Linked DNA regions of Homo sapiens: all the other regions are linked to region 3. The links come from fine-mapping of genetic effects on gene expression. A gene starts in region 3. Each other region holds a variant in brackets. All regions are shown on one strand. Distances are from middle to middle.

The links. PIP is the estimated chance that this variant, and not a neighbour inherited with it, causes the effect.
Region 1: its variant is the best candidate, but not a certain one, in a credible set for the expression of WDR45 in blood mononuclear cells (TOPMed, PIP 0.55).
Region 2: its variant is the best candidate, but not a certain one, in a credible set for the expression of WDR45 in esophagus muscle (GTEx, PIP 0.83).

The regions. Positions count from the first base shown.
Region 1 is chrX:49,055,719-49,061,437 of GRCh38, forward strand. It overlaps CCDC120 (coiled-coil domain containing 120), which reads left to right and starts at 3,281. Exons shown (of 11, transcript NM_001163321.4): 1 at 3,281-3,377. The variant T/C (reference allele first, on the strand shown) is at 2,218.
Region 2 is chrX:49,180,197-49,185,915 of GRCh38, forward strand. PRICKLE3 (prickle planar cell polarity protein 3) reads right to left here. Exons shown (of 9, transcript NM_006150.5): 2 at 4,429-4,514; 3 at 3,538-3,721. Among named protein-coding and RNA genes, the nearest start is that of PRICKLE3, 3.3 kb to the right of the region's middle. RefSeq lists a cis regulatory region at 4,076-4,576 and a silencer at 4,185-4,398. The variant T/C (reference allele first, on the strand shown) is at 2,865.
Region 3 is chrX:49,077,459-49,083,171 of GRCh38, forward strand. It overlaps WDR45 (WD repeat domain 45), which reads right to left and starts at 2,429. Exons shown (of 11, transcript NM_001029896.2): 1 at 2,293-2,429; 2 at 583-654; 3 at 379-453; 4 at 185-289. The coding sequence starts at 637. It also overlaps the pseudogene RNU4-52P. RefSeq lists enhancers at 1-930, 2,380-2,880, 2,592-2,886 and silencers at 2,592-2,886, 3,129-3,198.

The DNA.
Region 1 (5,719 bases), 22 kb before region 3:
TTCTCATAGAGACTAGTGAGTTTGAATAACAAGATGCCAGACCTATCTTATCCTGAAAATCTATCCAAACCTATTGATAACAAAACAAGCATTCCTCACTTTCCCAATCTATTTGGTACCTGAATTCTGAGAGGGAGAGTGCCCGAAGTTCAGACAGTGAAACCTACCAAGTTATTTGAAGGTATTTTGTTTTCACATCTTACATAGTGAGTAGGGAAAATTGAGATAATGAAGAATAATGACTAACTAAAAAATGTATCCAAATCTATGAACTTTCCTGAGCTCCAGGGACAAGAGTTGGGATAGTGAGGGTACCCTGTTATGTAAATGGTTCCTGCATTTTGTTTGGAGGGTAAGGAAAGTTCAAGAATGAGGGATACCAGTCGTATCTCAAAAATGTTTCTGAATCCATTCAGTTCTTGCATTTGGATGGTGAGAGTTCAGACAATTTCTCTGAATGTATTTGGTTCCTGCATTTTTGATGTTGAGAAAGGAGAGGTTGGATCATGAGGGAAACAGCTCTGTTTCAAATATGTCTCATTTGGTGAGCAGGGAGGGTACCGTGTCTAGATAGCAAGTGGGATTTGGAAGCTGAGGGATACCAGTTCTGTCTCAAAAATGCATCTGAGGCCGGGCGCGGTGGCTCACGCCTGTAATCCCAGCACTTTGGGAGGCTGAGGCGGGTGGATCACGAGGTCAGGAGTTCGAGCCCACCCTGGCCAAGATGGTGAAACCCCGTCTCTACTAAAAATACAAAAATTAGCTGGGTGTGGTGGCACGCACCTGTAATCCCAGCTACTCGGGAGGCTGAAGCAGGGAACTGCTTGAACCCGGGTGGTGGAGGTTGCAGTGAGCCGAGATCATGCCACTGCACTCCAGCCTGGGTGACAGGGTGAGACTCCGTCTCAAAAAAAAAAAAAAAAAAAAAAAATTGCGTCTGAATACATTTAGTCTCTGATTTTGGATAGCAAGAGTTCAGACAAGTTATCTGAGGAAAAACAACTGTTTCAAATGTATCAAGTGAGACTGAAGGACACCAGCTCTGTCTGGAAAAAATGTGTCTGAATGTATCTACTTGATTCCTGACTTCCTGTGGGGAAGAATACTTGTAACTGTGACAGCCAACATACACTGAGCTCTTACCAGGCACTGTTCTGCACAAGCTTTAAATGTATTAACTGATTTAATGCTCACAATAGCCCCGTGAGGTACATACTGTTATCATCGTCCCCAATTGACAGAGAGGCACAGAGAGGTTAAGTGACTTGTTCAAGCAGTCACACAGCTAGTAAGTGGCAGAGCTGGGTTGAATCCCAGACTCACCATTTACTAGTGACAGCAGGGTCACGTGAGGCCCAGGGCCCAGCTGGGGTAGGGCTTAGAGGTTGGGTCCTCTTCGAGGCTATTAAAAGTCATGGACCAGGGCAATGATGTGTGTTAGTGACTGCCCCATTTGTCTGCCTGGCCCAGGAGGTCCAGTTACCTGCTCTCCCCCAGTTACCCCCACAACAGCCCACCTCTGTGTGAGTGTATTAATTGTTGTTAGTAAGAGTCATTAATGACATGGTGTGTTTCCTTGCACTTTGAAATGCCTTTCAAAGTTATTTGGGGCCTCCATTGTCTCTGTAACCACCTTTTACCCATTTTACAGATGAGGAGACCTAAGCTTTGAGACTCAATCTACATTGCCAGCCAGATTCTCATCCCTCTTGGCTCTGATTTTATTACTGTCTCACTTCCCAACATCTTTGGTGGCCCATAAGAGGTGGGAGAGGCTGTGGCCGAGAGGACACTCCCCAATGCCCACCTTACCACTGCCCGCCCCAGGCAGTGAAGTGGGGAGGGCGATGAAAGGGGCCTTTGTGTTCCATGCTGGAAATCTCACACCCAGGAAGAAAGGTGGGCAGGGATGGCGGGAGGCCTTAATAGTATGAGTCTGGGGCATTGCTGATTCAGAGTGAGCTCCTCTCTAGGCTCAGCCCATCTGCAGCTTTTCTCACTTCAGGTCATGGTGTGGGCTGCTGCAGGGGTCTGGGTAGGGCTTGGGCCCTGGGTCACAGAGCAGATGGTCCTGAATGGAGCACAGGATGTGTGCTGTGTGCCGGGACTGGCCCAGAGCTCAGGTGGTAGTGGTGATGGTGGTGGTGGTGATGGTGGTGGTGGTGGGCGGGGTGAGGGGAGGCAGGGACAGTACGTCGTAAGGACTCAAAGCTCTCA[T/C]TTCCTTCTCTGGCATGAAGCCTGACTCTCTGAAGAAGAGAGACCCAGCATGGATGTGAAGAAGCATGAGCCCCCTTCCCTACTTCTCCTTCCCACTTGCAGGAGTAGCCTCTGTCTGCCTCCCAGCCAGGACCCAGCCCCCGGAAATTCTGATTTCACCTGCTCTTCTGCCACTGTGATCTGAATCAGGCCTCTTCACCTTTCCAGGCCTCAGCTTCTGCATCTATAAAATGGCTGTGAGGAGGCTGGGTCTGTGCCATCCTGCTACATTTGTAGGAACCAAGAGGGATCAAAACCCATAAGTGTTTTGTAGGGTGTAAGTTGTGCTTGATTTATTGAGATTATTTCTTCTGGAGCCACAGAAGGATCTTGAGACCTGACCTCTCCTTAGAAAGGTTGACTTCCTCTGTCCCCAACTTGGGAAACTATTATTCCCCAGTGAGGGTGGGAATTGCCCCAAGGCCTTCTACCACTGCCTTGCCCTGGGAGGAAAGGGTAGGGGCCTCAGAATGTGATGCTTAGTGCCAAGACACAAAAACTCAGTTTACACCCGAAGCCTCCCATGTACTTTACAGCTCCCCACACCTCTATGGCCCAGATCCAAGTTGCCCCTTGGGTGGGCAGCGTCTAATCCTCTGGGAATTTGGGCAGTAGGAGAGGCAGCTGCTACTCCCACCACTCTCAGCCCTTCTTCCCAGTTTTCTGCTAAGTGTACGGGGTGAGGAGGCACAGGCCTCCATGCCTGGCCAGTTTTAAAAAAAATTTTTGTAGAGATGGGGGTCTCATTATGTTGCACAGTCTGGCCTTGAACTCTTGGCTTCAAGCAATCCTCCCACCTCAGCCTCCCAAAGTGCTGAGATTACAGGCACCAGCTACCCTGCCTGGCCCAGGCTGTCTTCTTAGACATGCTGAGCACCCTGAGTGGACCTGGCCCTGAAACTGCCCCCAGGGGTGACCCTAGTCCTGGTGGCAGACAGGCAAGGGTTAAAAGGTGTGGGCCGGCCCAGTTCCTGGCCAGGTAGGCTGGGCCATTACCTAGTGGGAGGTGGCCAAGGCATCTGCCACTGCTGCTGACTGCCACTACCAGCCGGAGCCAGGGCCTGGTCGAGACAACTATTTTTGAGGTATCTGAGGCTACCCCACAGCACTCTCTGGCATTGGTGAGCACCTGGGAGCAGTGGGCCCAGGGTGCGAGGGGGATAAGGGCATTGGGGAGCTGGGGCAGGGTGTACTGAAGTTCCCTTCGGTAGAGAGCTAGGTCTGTGGGAGAGGCACACCAACAATGCAGGGCAGGGTGGTGGTGGGGGGGTAGGGGGGCAGTGAGAATGGAGGGCCTGAGGACAGGGGCAAAGCCCAAAACACCAATTTCCTTTCCTGGCACCAAGCCGATTCCCGGCCGGAAATGGACGAGGAGGGATCGGGGAAAAGAGAAGTATGAGTCCCCCCTTCTCCACCCTATCCCTGCTTCCTTTCCTCCCCGCCAGGAGTAGCCTCTGTCCTCCCCCAACCCAGGGCCCAGCTCTCCAAGAAAGACCAGACTGGGCTACTAAGAAACCATTACTCAGGCACCTGCCTGCCTATGCCTGATTTGTTCACTGCAGTGGAGGAAGCAGGGGCTCTGGGGAGGGTAATGGCCCAGACATTGAGATTTTGTATTTGCTCTAATAGTGGCAGGATGTGGAAATGACCCCCCAACTGTTGGGGTGCCACCCAGGTGAGGTATCTTGGTTGTAAACAGTTATTACAGCCAGGAATTTCTTTCTCGGCTGTGGTGTCAGAATGGCAGACCTGAAAAACCTGCCGGGCCCGCCTCTGGGTGTGGGGGGTGCCCTCTACTGCTCTCCCGCTGCAGCTGGTCCCTGGGACAGGATGGGGGCCATGGGGTCACTGGTAGGGGGAGACCTGGGGTTGGTGTGGGGGTGTGCTGGGGAGGGGTTTGCTGGGATCCCTTTCTCGCCATCTGGGCGGGGATGAGGCAGCTCCAGGCCCCAAGGCAAGTATGCAGAGGGCAGGTGAGCGGAGGCAGAAGCTTAGGAACTGGGTGTGGGGGTGTGGGGCGTTGACTGTGTCTAGCCTGCCCAGTGACCCCATGACTCATACTCTAACTATGTCCCCCCGAGGTCGGGCTGATAGGGAGGAGTTGGGGTTCCTGTGTGGACCCTGTCTGGACTTCCAGGACGCTCTGAGAAATTAGAGAAGAAAGGATTGGCTGGGTGCAGTGCCTCACGCATGTAATCCCAGCACTTTGGGAGGCCGAGGCGGGTGGATCACCTGAGGTCAGGAGTTCGAGACCAGCCTGGCCAACATGGTGAAACCCAATTTCTACTAAAAATACAAAAGTAGCCAGGCATGGTGGCGTGCACCTGTAATCCCAGCTACTTTGGAGGCTGAAGTGGGAGAATTGCTTGAACCTGGGAAGTGGAGGCTGCAGTGAGCCAAGATCGTGCCACCACTGCATTCCAGCCTAAGTGACAGAGCCAGGCCCTATCTCCAAAAAAAAAAAAAAAAAAAAAAAAAAAAGAATCGAAGCAGCCCAGCATGGAATTGGGATTGGATTGGGACCAATGCTGGCAAGGGGGACCGTGGATGGAGTTGGGTTCCTGTGGGGGTAAAGGAAGGTTCCAGGGAACCCTGTGAGAGTTCCTTGGGCCTAAATGGGGGCTGGGAAAGTTGGAGCCCCAGTGATCTGGGATGTGGAGGAACCCCTGCCATGCTGGGAAGTGTCAGACCTTAGATGAGTGGGGATGTGGGGCCTGGGTTTGTCAAAAGGCTTTAGGGACTGATCCCCACCCCTGCTGTTGAAGGCAGGGCACCACTGCTTCAAGAGAGGGGTACAGGCCCTATGGGGCAGGCAGGAGGACTGCAGAGAAACATGACACCTTACAAGCAGCTTGGCCTCACCCCACAATACACAGATGGGGAAGGGGCTTGAACCCATGCCTCCTTGGTTGGCTGGGTCTTCCTCACACCAGGCTAACATGTCATGACAAGCTGCCGACTTCAAGGTAGGTGATAATGGAGCTCTGTGGCCCCATAAAGCCCTCCCAGTCACCTGCCACCTAGGTTAGGCCAGGTGGTGGGAGGTGATGTCACTCAGCTGCCCAGCTGGGGACTGAGCATGATGTGGAAGGAAGGGAGCAAACTCCAGAGGAGGGGTGGCCAGCCAAGGCAGGTTCCATGGTCAGCTGAGCCATCGGGGGCAGAGAAGGAGGCAGGAGGCAGGTGGTTCGTTATTTGCAGCTGTGGACTTTGCTTCTCACAAATCCCAGCAGGAGGACTTCCCTACACTAGGCTCAGGACAGGCTGTCATGGCAAGAGGGGCTGGAGGGACCCTGGGTCAAGTGAACATTCTCCTTGCTACACTAGAGCTACAGAATGGAGTTGGGACAAGCACAGACCCACAGATCTGAGCTTGAACCCTGGCTCCACCGCCTCCTCATTTACTTACTCTATCTTTTATTCATTCAGCTGGCACCCATTCATTGAGCACTTGTGTGTACAG
Region 2 (5,719 bases), 100 kb after region 3:
TAATTTTTTATTTTTAGTAGAGACAGGGTTTCACCATGTTGGCCAGGCTGGTCTCGAACTCCTGACCTCAAGTGATCCGCCTGCCTTGGCCTCCCAAAGTGCTGGGATTACAGGTGTGAGCCACCGCGCCCAGTCTACTGATCCACTTTTCTTTTTCCCTTTACAGGAAAATTCCTCAAAAAGTTATGAGCACTTGTGTTCACTCCACTTCCTGTCCTTCCAATCTCTCTTGAGCCTACTTGAGGCAGGCTTCCGCTCCCATCCCTCTTCCAAAGCTGTCAAGGTCATCCATGACTTCCCCATTGTTAAAATCATTGTTCAGGTCTCAGTCGTCATCAGACTTGATGATGGTAGCACTGCACCGAGCTGACCACTCTCTCTTCCTGGAAACACTTTCTTCCCTTGGCTTCCAGGACACCACACAGTCCAGGTTTTCCTTCCACCTTATTGGCTGCTCCTTCTTTGTCCCTGTTTTGGCTCCTCCTCAACTAGCTGACCCCTAAATGCAGGAGGATCCTAGGACTCAGCTCTTGGTCCTCTTGCCTCTGTCTACATTCAATTTCTTGGGAATTACATTCAACCTTATGGCTGTAAATATCATCTACTTGGCTGGCTAATGTGTCACCTCCAGCCTGTGACACATAATGACAAACACATACGTCCAGCTCTGTAACTTATCCCTTGAGTTCCAGGCAATGTGGCTATTTAGATGTCTAACAGGCATCTCAAACTCCAGATGGCCACAACCAAACTTATGCTCTTACCCCTCAAACTGCTCCTGTCTTGGCCTCTCCCACATCAGTTAATCTACCTATCCTCAGGGTCATCTTTCACTCCTCTTTCTCCCACCCCCACAAGCAAATCCTCTGAGTGCTACTTCCAAAATATAGGCTGGGTGCTGTGGATCACACCTGTAATCCCAGCACTTTAGGAGGCCCAGAGGGGAAGATAGCTTGAGCCCAGGAGTCCAAGACCACCCTGGGCAACATGGCAAAACCCCATCTCTACAAAAAATACAAAAATCATCCAGGCGTGATGATGCGTGCCTGTAGTCCCAGCTACTTGGGAGGCTGAGGTGGGAGGATCACTTGAGCTCAGGAAGTTGAGGCTGCAGTGAGCTGTGATTGAGCCACTGCACTCAAACCTGGGAGACAGAGTGAGACCCCCCCCCATATATATATATGTGTGTGTGTATATATATATATATATATACACGTATAATTATTATACGTATATTATTTACGTAAATTATATACGTAAAATAATTATTTTATATATATGTATATAGATGTATACATATGTGTATATATATGTGTATATATACGTATATATGTGTATATATATACGTATATGTGTATATATATACACGTATATATACGTATATATATACGCGTGTATCTATATACGTATATATATATGTGTATATATATATACACACACATATATATATATTAAATAATTATTTATTAAACGGAATTTTGCTCTTGTTGCCCAGGCTGCAGTGCAATGGCATGATCTGGGCTCACCGAAACCTCCGCCTCCCGGGTTCAAGCGCTTCTCCTGCTTCAGCCTTCCAAGTAGCTGGGATTACAGGCATGTGCCACCACGCCTGGCTAATTTTTTTGTATTTTTAGTAGAGACGGGGTTTCTCCATGTTGGTCAGGCTGGTCTCAAACTCCCGACCTCAGGCGATCTGCCTGCCTAGGCTTCCCAAAGTGGTGGGATTACAGGCGTGAACCACTGCACCCAGCCTATTTTTTTTTTTTTTGAGACAGGGTCTTGCTCTGTCGCCCAGGCTGGAGTGCAGTGGTGCAATCTCAGCTCACTGCAACCTCTGCCTCCTGGGTTCAAGGAATTCTTGTGGCTCAGCCTCCCGAGTAGCTGGGATTACAGACATTTGCCACCATGCCAGACTAATTTTTGTATTTTTAGTAGAGATGGGGTTTCACTATGTTGGCCAGGCTGGTCTCAAACTCCTGACCTCAAGTGATCCACTCGCCTCGGCCTCCCAAAGTGCTGGGATTACAGGTGTGAGCCACCATGCCGGCCTTTCTGTCTGTCTGTCTGTCTCTCTCTCCATATATATATAACTCCTTGCACTGCCAGTGCCATCATCATCAGGTTCCTCACTGGTCTCCTGATTCCACCCTTATTCCTCCAGGCTGTCTTCTGCTGACAACCCTCTTGCGACTTCCCTTCATTCACAGGCAAAGCCAAAGTCCTCTCCATAGCCCCTGCCACATCTCTGACCTCATCTCCAGCTGGTCTCCCCCTTGCTCACTCTGCGCCAGCAGCACTGGCCTTGCCATCCCTTACATATGCCAAGCACACGCCTGCCTCAGGGCCTTGGCATTAGCCATGCCCTTTGCCTGTGTGAATCGCTGTAACCTTAGATGTCTGCATGGCTCACTTCTCACCTCCTTTCGGGCAGCTCAACCATTAAATTCTCACAGAGGCTTATTCTGGGCACCCTATTTACAATTCTAGCATCTCTCTCCTTCCCTCTCTCTTTCTTCACCCCACCTTCCTTGCTTTTTAATTCCATAGCCCTTACACCATCTGACATATATTTACAGGTTTGCTTATTGGGTGTTCCTCCTTTCCAGAATCTACCCTCTGCCTGGGCAGATTTTTTTTTTTTTTTTTTTGAGAAGTATCACTCTGTTGCCCAGGCTGGAGTGCAGTGGCACGATCTCAGCTCACTGCAACCTCCGCTTCCTGGGTTCAAACAATTCTCCTGCCTCAGCCTCCTGAGTAGCTAGGATTACAGGTGTGCACCACCACACCTGGCTAATTTTTGTACTTTTAGTAGAGACGGGGTTTTGCCATGTTGGCCAGGTTGGTCTCAAACTCCTGACCTCAAG[T/C]AATCCGCCCGCCTCAGCCTCCCGAAGTGCTGGGATTACAGGCGTGAGCCACCGTGCCCGTGGGCAGATATGTTATTTTGTGTTTTGCTCATTGCTGTGTCCTCAGTGCCTAGAACAGTGTCTCACATGCAGTAGGTGCCCCATAACTATGTGTTGAATGAGTCAATCAATGAAGTCATGTGGTGAATGAAGTGCTGGGAGGGTAGAATAGGGAGTGGGGCCACGCATGGTGGCTTGCTCTTGTAATCCCAGCACTTTGGGAGGCCGAGGCAGGATCACTTGAGCCCAGGAGTTCAACATCAGCCTGGGCAACATAGGGAGACCCTGTCTCTACAAAAAAATTTTAAAAATAGCCAGGCAGGGTGGCATGCACCTGCAGTCCCAGCTACAAGGGAGGCTGTGGTGGGCAACAGAGTGAGACCCTGTCTCAAAAACAATCAATCAAAAATAATAGGATTGGGGTGAACAGGCCCTGAGGAACTGGTCCCTCAGTCACCCAAGGTATGGGGGGCTGACCACTCTTCCATCACAGAGGGGCCAGAAGGACCCTCGGTCTGACTGCACACTCTAGCGTAGCCCCAGAAATAGGTTCCCACCTGAGTGTGTGTGTGTGTGTGTGAGCATTAGTGTGCACCCACTGGACAGCAAGAGTGGAGGGCTGGCCTCTGGTCACCTGCTCCGGCTTAAGGCCTGGGGGCACCCAGGCATACTCCTCCGATGCACAGCCTGAGTCGTCGTCGGAGATGGAGTGGCGCTGGAAGTCCGAGATTAGCCGACACATGATGCGTTCCAGGTCCACAGGCACCGCGTGCACTGCATGCTCCTCCCGCGGGCATTTGCAATGCTGGCAGATCTTTCTGAGGGGGCCGGGATGGGGGTCAATTACTAAGGAGTTGCCCACCCGAACCCCTCGGCAGCCCAGGTCCAATGGAGGAGCGGGGACATACAGATTATCACCACCAAAGGTCTGTGAGCAGGGACAGGGATCTGGGCCTGGGGGCAGGGCTGCAGGAGGTGGGCCTATGAGCCAGGGTGTGGCTGGGCTGTGAGCCAGAGGACAGGTCGTGGGGAGTGGGATGCTTTGTGGGGGAACTTTCACTAGACACAGGCATCTAACCTGTGGTGAGGCTCTGAACTTGTGGGCTCTGAGCCTGTGGGTAGGGCCTGAGTCTGGGGGCTGTAGGCTCTGTTTATTGGGTGCAGGGCTCCAGCAGGAGGATAGGACGCTGGGCCTGGGAGAGTAGGTCTGAGTCTAAGAGGGGTGCTGGAGGCCAGAGGGCGGCGCTCAGAGTTAGAGACGAAGAATCTCCCTAGGGATGCGACTCCGCGGCTACGGGAGAACACTTCTGGGGGCGGGGCTGCGTAGTGGGTGGAGCTCTCCTGGGAAAGGACTTTGGGGAATGAGTCAGGGGGCGGGGCTCTGAATCTGAGCCTGAGGCTCTTTTCCCAACTGAGATCCCTCTGTAGGCGGAGCTCAAGCGTAGGGGCGTGGCGTAAGGCTCCTGGATTTCCCCCCGAAGGCGGAGCTCTGACAAAGGCGAGGCCCTTTAGGGGCGCCACTTACCTCCAGCCGTGGAGCAGGAAGCCAGGGCACTGCTCCCTACAGGAGTTGCAGGGCTGGCCCCGGTCTGGGTCCTCTGCCTCTGGAGGCTGCAGTGGGCGGGGGCAGATGCAGGGCCGGGTGAGGCGCGGAAGCAGGGAAGGAGAAGTCAACGCCCGCCCCTCCACTTCATTGCCCGCGACCGCACGCTGGGGCCTGTCTTACCTGGGCAGCGCTGGGCAGGCTGGGACAGCGCCCAGAGTGCGGGGGAGCGGGACACAACCGAGGCAGAGGCGGGGCAGTTGGAGCCACCTCCTTATATGTCCCCTTTTCAGGGAATTCCCCTTCCTAGGCTGGCCTCGGACCCCCCTCCCCGTCCGCCCCTAGCCTCAGACACCTCCCACCAGCCTTAGATCCTTCCAGGGCTCAAGCACCTCCCCTATAATTCATTGTACTCTCCCCACTAGAGCACAGAACCCCTACTCTGGGCATCCTCTCCCCGGCCTCATCCCGGTTCCCTCTCCATCTACGCCGCCAGCAGCACTCCAGTTCCACAGGGTAGGAGACGAGACCGCATTCTTCCTTGAGATCCCCACGTGAACCCTGCCCCTCTCTTCAGAAGCTCAGGAGCTCCTCCCCTAAACCCTGGCCTCATGCCCTGATACCCAAGGAACTGGGGACCCTCCCCAGGATCTCAGGAGGCCCCTGCTCCATTCAGAAACCCCCATCCCAAGAAACCTTGGCCTTTACCCATCCCATCCTAGGGCTATTTATTCCTTCTCCGGACCATCAAACCCAGACCCCACATTCCCAGGTCAGAGACCCACTCCAAAGGAAGTGAAAGAACCTCCTATCTAAGAAGTCAAAAACTCCCTTGCTCAGGCGGAACCCTGGAAGCCTTGTCCCCCCAAATCCCAGTCTCTTGACTCTCAGCATTTCGGCATCCCAGGAGTGTAGGACTCCATCCCTCCGTGCACATTCCTCCAAGGTACTGTGTCCTTTAGAAGCTGAGGAGGTCGGCCAGGCTCGGTGGCTCACGCCTATAATCCCAGCACTTTGGGAGGCCGAGGTGGGCGGATCACCTGAGGTCAGGAGTTCGAGACCAGCCTGGCCAACATGGTGAAACCTTGTCTCTACTAAAAATACAAAAATTAGGCGGGCGCGGTGGCGGGCGTCTGTAATCCCAGGTACATGGGAGGCTGAAGCAGGAGAATCGCTTGAACCCAGGAGGCGGAGGTTGCAGTGAGCGGAGATAGCGCCACTGCACTCCAGCCTGGGTGACAGAGATTCAGTCTCAAAAAAAAAAAAAAAAAAA
Region 3 (5,713 bases):
TTTTAAAATGAAAACAAAGCACCAAGCTTCTCAAGCTATAAGATCCATGACTTCCAAGCTGTAGGCCTCCTCTCTGTGTGACTCTGAAGTACTCTGACGTCTTCATCTGCCAGTACCTTGGGGTGCCTGTGGGAGGCCAGGAATCCGAGAAATCTGGGCCAAAGGGCAGGATGAGGGCACTTACCTGAGATCTCTGAGAACTTGGGACTACTACCACCGCCCACCAAGGCCAGAAGGTTGGAGCGGTGCAGCATCTCCACCAAGCCCATGCTGCCCACCTGCTCGTGGTCTGGACAGGGACCAGGGTGTCAGTGGAGGTGGGAGCCAACGCCCAGCCCAGCTCTTCTGCCCATTGCCCCTCCCCTGCCAACAGCTCACCCAGATGCCCCTTCTCCATCAAGGGCTCCACGTTGTAGATGCGCACACCTGTCTCCATGGCGCAGCAAAAGCAGCCTGGGGGATGGAAGGAATCCAGACTGCCTTAAAGAATGCCCAGGTAGGAAGCTGGGGGCCCATGGCCCACTTCTGACCCCTCTTTTCCTCGCTTCCTCCCACAAGGGTACAGGCCCAATCCTCTCTCACTTTGGTCTTGGTTGAAACGCAGGCTGGTCACTCCTCGAAGTGGCTGTTGAGTCATGGTGCAGGATTGTTCCTCTGCATACAAATGGGATAAAGATGAGAAGAGTCCTGGAATCTCCCCTCCAAGTTCTGCCTCACCTGATTTCCTCCTCCTACTCTGCTAACTACTGACTCTGGAGTGACTGCAAAAAAGATAAAAACAGGCCAGGCGTGGTGGCTTATGCCTGTAATCCCAGCACTTTGGGAGGCCAAGGCGGGTGGATCACCTGAGGTCAGGAGTTTGAGATCAGCCTGGCTAACATGGTGAAATCCCGTCTCTAATAAAAATACAAAAGTTAGCCGGGTGTGGTGGGGGGCACCTATAATCCCAGCTACTCAGGAGGCTGAGGCAGGAGAATTGCTTGAACCCGAGAGGCTGAGATGGCAGTGAGCCGAAATCGAGCCATTGCATTCCAGCCTGGGTGACAGAGCGAGACTCCGTCTCGGGGGGAAGAAAAAGATAAAAACAGAGAGTCCCAGGGTCTCTGCTCTAAGCTCCCAAGATCCCAAACAACATGGCCAGGAACCCTCCTTCTTTCAGGTTTGGCAAGCTCCAGGCCCACACTGACGTGGACCCCACACCTCCTCTTTACATGCTGGCCCTCACTGACTTGTCAGGAAGTAATGTGATAGGGGGTGCCCCCGTGATATCTCCTCCCCACCGCCAGCCAATCTTGATCCCAATGCCAGACATGGCCTGGAACCACTCCCAACCCATTTCTCATCTTCAAACCTGACCTAGCACCGGACTCTCTCAATAAATAGACAAAAGTGGGCTAGGAGATGCACTTCTTGTACCTCCCTGACTTGGCCCTGGGACTGCTATGCTTGGTCTGCCATCCCCAGGAACTCCTCTGCTCATACCCTTCTAACTGTACCCCAACCTATTTGACCACCCCAGAGTCCTCTCACACCTTTCCCCCTCAACCGGCTTCCCCAAACTCCTTCAGGATGCCTACCTTGGGATGACCCCTTCTCATGCCTTGGTAACTACCCTTCAGGGCCAGCCTAGACATTCCCTTAGATTGGCTTATGCCCTGGGGACTCTACCCTAGGATTCCCCCTAGCACTCTAAATTTTCCACCCCTGGGACATCTCCTTCCTTGTGTTCTGCTGTCCTTGACTACAACATAACCTGGCCTGGACCCAACCCCAGGAACCCCCCCCATCCTCCTAAGATTCCCCCTCTAGACCCCTATCCAAGACCCCGCCCCAGGGCACCCTTGCCTTCTAAGACCCTTGCCCAAAACAAACCACCCAAAACTCCTACCTAGGAGAACCTCAACCCCTAAGATGCCTGCGCAGTCCCCTACTAAGATTACTGCCATAGAGCCCCCAACTTCCCTTCAAATCCTCAACTCCCCAATAACTCTGGCCAGACATACTCCCTCCCCCATCCTCCAAGAGTCCAAATCTCCTTCCTTTCTTTCAGTTACACCCTCCACTGGAATGCCTCATGCTCTTTCTTTGGACAGCTCTGCCTTAGAGTTATTCTCTGGACAGCTCCAACTTTCAACACCCCTTTTTTGCACCTCCATTCCAAGACTCTGTCCGGGATGCCTCGCCCCTCTCCCAAGACCAGCCGCATGCTCCTTCCAACGCCAGCACCCACTCAAGACCTCTGCCTTAGACCCCTACTCGAAAGACTTCCAGCCTCCCCCAGACCCAACCAACCCTGGGATCGTGCTCCAGCTTCCTGCCGCCTTCACCGGCCTGACCTCCGCGTGTCCCTGACCCGGGCCCCAGCTGTCGGTGCCGCCCGCGGCCCGGTTTTCTGACCTCCCGGGCCTTGGAGCCCGGCTCGGGTGTTTACATCAGGCCCTACTTCCGGGGGAGGGAGCCTGTCGCAGGAAATGACTCACCCCAGCTGGAAAAAGGCGGCCACCGCCTTCCTCGCCTAGTTCCCGGGTCTTCGGAGCATCGCGAGTGACAGTGGGGTTCTCCGGGGAGGGCGCGGGGAGCGGAGGAAGGTTGGCTGGGGGACCGGAGGCGAAGGGGGTTCCTCAAGGCCGAGACTGTCTGAGGGAACCCGGAAGGGTGGGGAGAGAGAGCGTGCCTTGCCCCCAGCAAAGCGAAACCGGCCAAGCCCTCAGCCCCTTGGTCACCCACAATGGGGGAGTAAACCTTCCCTGCTAACAAGACGCGGACCTCCGCGGCGGCCGAGAGTAGCCGCCCCGGTTCGCAACACACAGTCCTCCCAGGCTTCCAGAGGGGCGGCGCTGGGGGTTACAGGCGGGGGCGGACCTGGAGACCTTGAAAGTGGAGAAACCTCCTTGGCTCCGGGAAGCCAAGGAACAGATTTCGCTTTCTTTCTCCCCACCCTGTCCCCCCAACCCCGCCAGCTCTGAGTTTTGTCTTTTGTGTTTTGTTTAGTTTTGTTTTCTGAGACAGAGTCTCGCTCTGTCTCCCAGGCTGGAGTGCAGTGGCGCGATCTCGGCTCACTGCAACCTCCGCCTCCCGGGTTCAAACGGTTATCCTGCCTCAGCCTCCGGAGTAGCTGGGACTGCAGGCGTGCGCCACCACGCCCATCTAATTTTTGTATTTTTAGTAGAGACGGGGTTTCACCATGTTGGTCAGGCTGGTCTCGAACTCTTGACCTCAGGTTATCCACCCACCTCGGCCTCCCAAAGTGCTGGGATTACAGGCTTAAGCTACCACGCCCGGCCTCTGCTTTTATTTTTACAAAATACAAAATAGCTTTTTGATAGTAAAAGGTATGAATGCTTTGGGTTAAAAAAAAAAAAAAAAAGAGGTCCTACCTATGATAAAGCTTTTAAAAAAAGGCCCCAAATTATATGCATACTGGAAGGAATTTTTTTTTTTTTTTTTTTTTTTGATTAACAGAGTTTGGCTCTTTTTGCCCAGGCTGGAGTGCAATTAGCGCGATCTTGGCTCACCACAACCTCCGCCTCCCGGGTTCAAGGGATTCTTCTGCCTCAGCCTCCCCAGCCTCCCAAGTAGCTGGGATTACAGGCATGTGCCACCACGCCCAGCTAATTTTGTATTTTTAGTAGAGACCGGGTTTCTCCCTGTTGATCAGTCTGGTCTTGAACTCCTGACCTCAGGTGATCCGCCTGCCTCGGCCCCCCAAAGTGTTGGGATTACAGGCGTGAGCCACTGCGCCCGGCTGGAAGGATTTTTAATTAAACTTTACATTAAGAAATAATAAATAGGCTGGGCGCGGTGGCTCACGCCTGTAATCCCAGCACTTTGGGAGGCCGAAGCAGGCAGATCATGAGGTCAGGAGTTCGAGATCAGCCTGGCCAGCATGGTGAAACCCCCTCTCTACTAAAAATACAAAAAGTTAGCCAGGCATGGTGGTGCGTGCCTGTAGTCCCAGCTACTCGGGAGGCTGAGGCAGGAGAATCACTTGAAGCCAGGAGGAGGAGGTTGCAGTGAGCAGAGATCGCACCACTGCACTCCAGCCTGGGTAATAGAGTGAGACTCTGTCTCGAAAAAAAAAAAAAAAGCCGGGCGTGGTGACACGCGCCTGTAATCCTAGCTACTGGGGAGGCTGAGGCAGGAGAACCACTTAAACCTAGGAGGCGGAGGTTGCAGCAAGCCCAGATCCTGCCATTGCACTCCAGCCTGGGAGACGAGCGAAATTCCCGTCTCAAAAAAAAAGGGCTGGGCATGGTGGTGCATGCCTGTAATCCCAGCAATTTGGGAGGCCGAGGCAGGTGGATTGCCTGAGCTCAGGGGTTTGAGACCACCCTGGGTAACACGGTGAAACCTCCTCTCTACTAAAATACAAAAAATTAGCCGGGCGTGGTGGCGGGCACCTGTAAGTCCCCTACTTGGGAGGCTGAGGCAGGAGAATCATTGGAACCCAGAAGGCAGAGGTTGCAGTGAGCCAAGATCGCGCCACTGCACTCCAGCCTGGGCAACAGAGGGAAACCCTGTCTCCAAAAAAAAAAAAAAAAAAAGAATATTCTTGAAAAAAAAGAAATATGCTTTTTGCAGTGGCAGTATCATAGCCAATGAGGTTTAGCCAAGGTGTGGATATTGCTAATTGGAAACTTCCCAATACCCCGCCCCGAAGACTTGCAATATAGTCGGCATTGGCAATTTTTGACAGTCTATGAAGACTGAATATTAAAGAAAAAATACAGAGAAATCTCATACTTTTAATACAATCAGGGTTTCACATTGATGAAATCCCCCCTTTACTTTTTTTGAAGTATTGTTTTGATGCTTCTGTTTTTTCATATATTAATATATAAGAACATCTTTTTAACTCATCCTTTTTAACTGGTTCATGATATTATGTAGCATTGTTCAGCCCTTCCCCAACTGATGGCTGCCTAGGTTGTTTCAGATACTGTGTCGTCAATTCCCATGTATATATTTACTTGTGAATTTTGGCCCTATATACTCCCCTTGGCATGATTCCATTACTGTGCTCCTCAACAAGGCCAATCATCTGGCTTTCTTCAGACTCCACTTCCTCATGTCCCAGACCATATTCAACTCAATTCAATTTGGTGTTTGTCACTCCTGTGTCTTTGGGACTGCTCTTAACCAGACCACTGATGAATAATAATCTTGCCAAACCAGCAATCACTTCTCTGCCCTCTCCTGTGACTTTCTAGTGAAACCCACAATTTCTTCCTCTCACTCTCTTGGTTTTTCTTTTTCTTTCTTTCTTTTTTTTTAAGATGGAGTCTCACTCTGTCACCTAGGCTGGACTGCAGTGGCACGATCTCGGCTCACTGCAACCTCTGCTTCCTGGGTTCAAGTGATTCTCCTGCCTTAGCCTCCTGAGTAACTGAGATTACAGGCATGCACCACCACGCCCAGCTAATTTTTTTTTTTTTTTTTGAGACGGAGTCTCGCTCTGTCATCCAAGCTGGAGTGCAGTGGGGCGATCTCGGTTAACTGCAACCTCCGCCTCCCGGGTTCAAGCGATTCTCCTGCCTCAGGCTCCCAAGTAGCTGGGATTATAGGCATGCACCACCACGCCCGGCTAATTTTTGTATTTTTAGTAGAGACGGGGTTTCACCATGTTGGTCAGGCTGGTCTCGAACTCCTGACCTCGTGATCCGCCCGCCTTGGCCTCCCAAAGTGCTGGGATTACAGGCGTGAGCCACCGCGC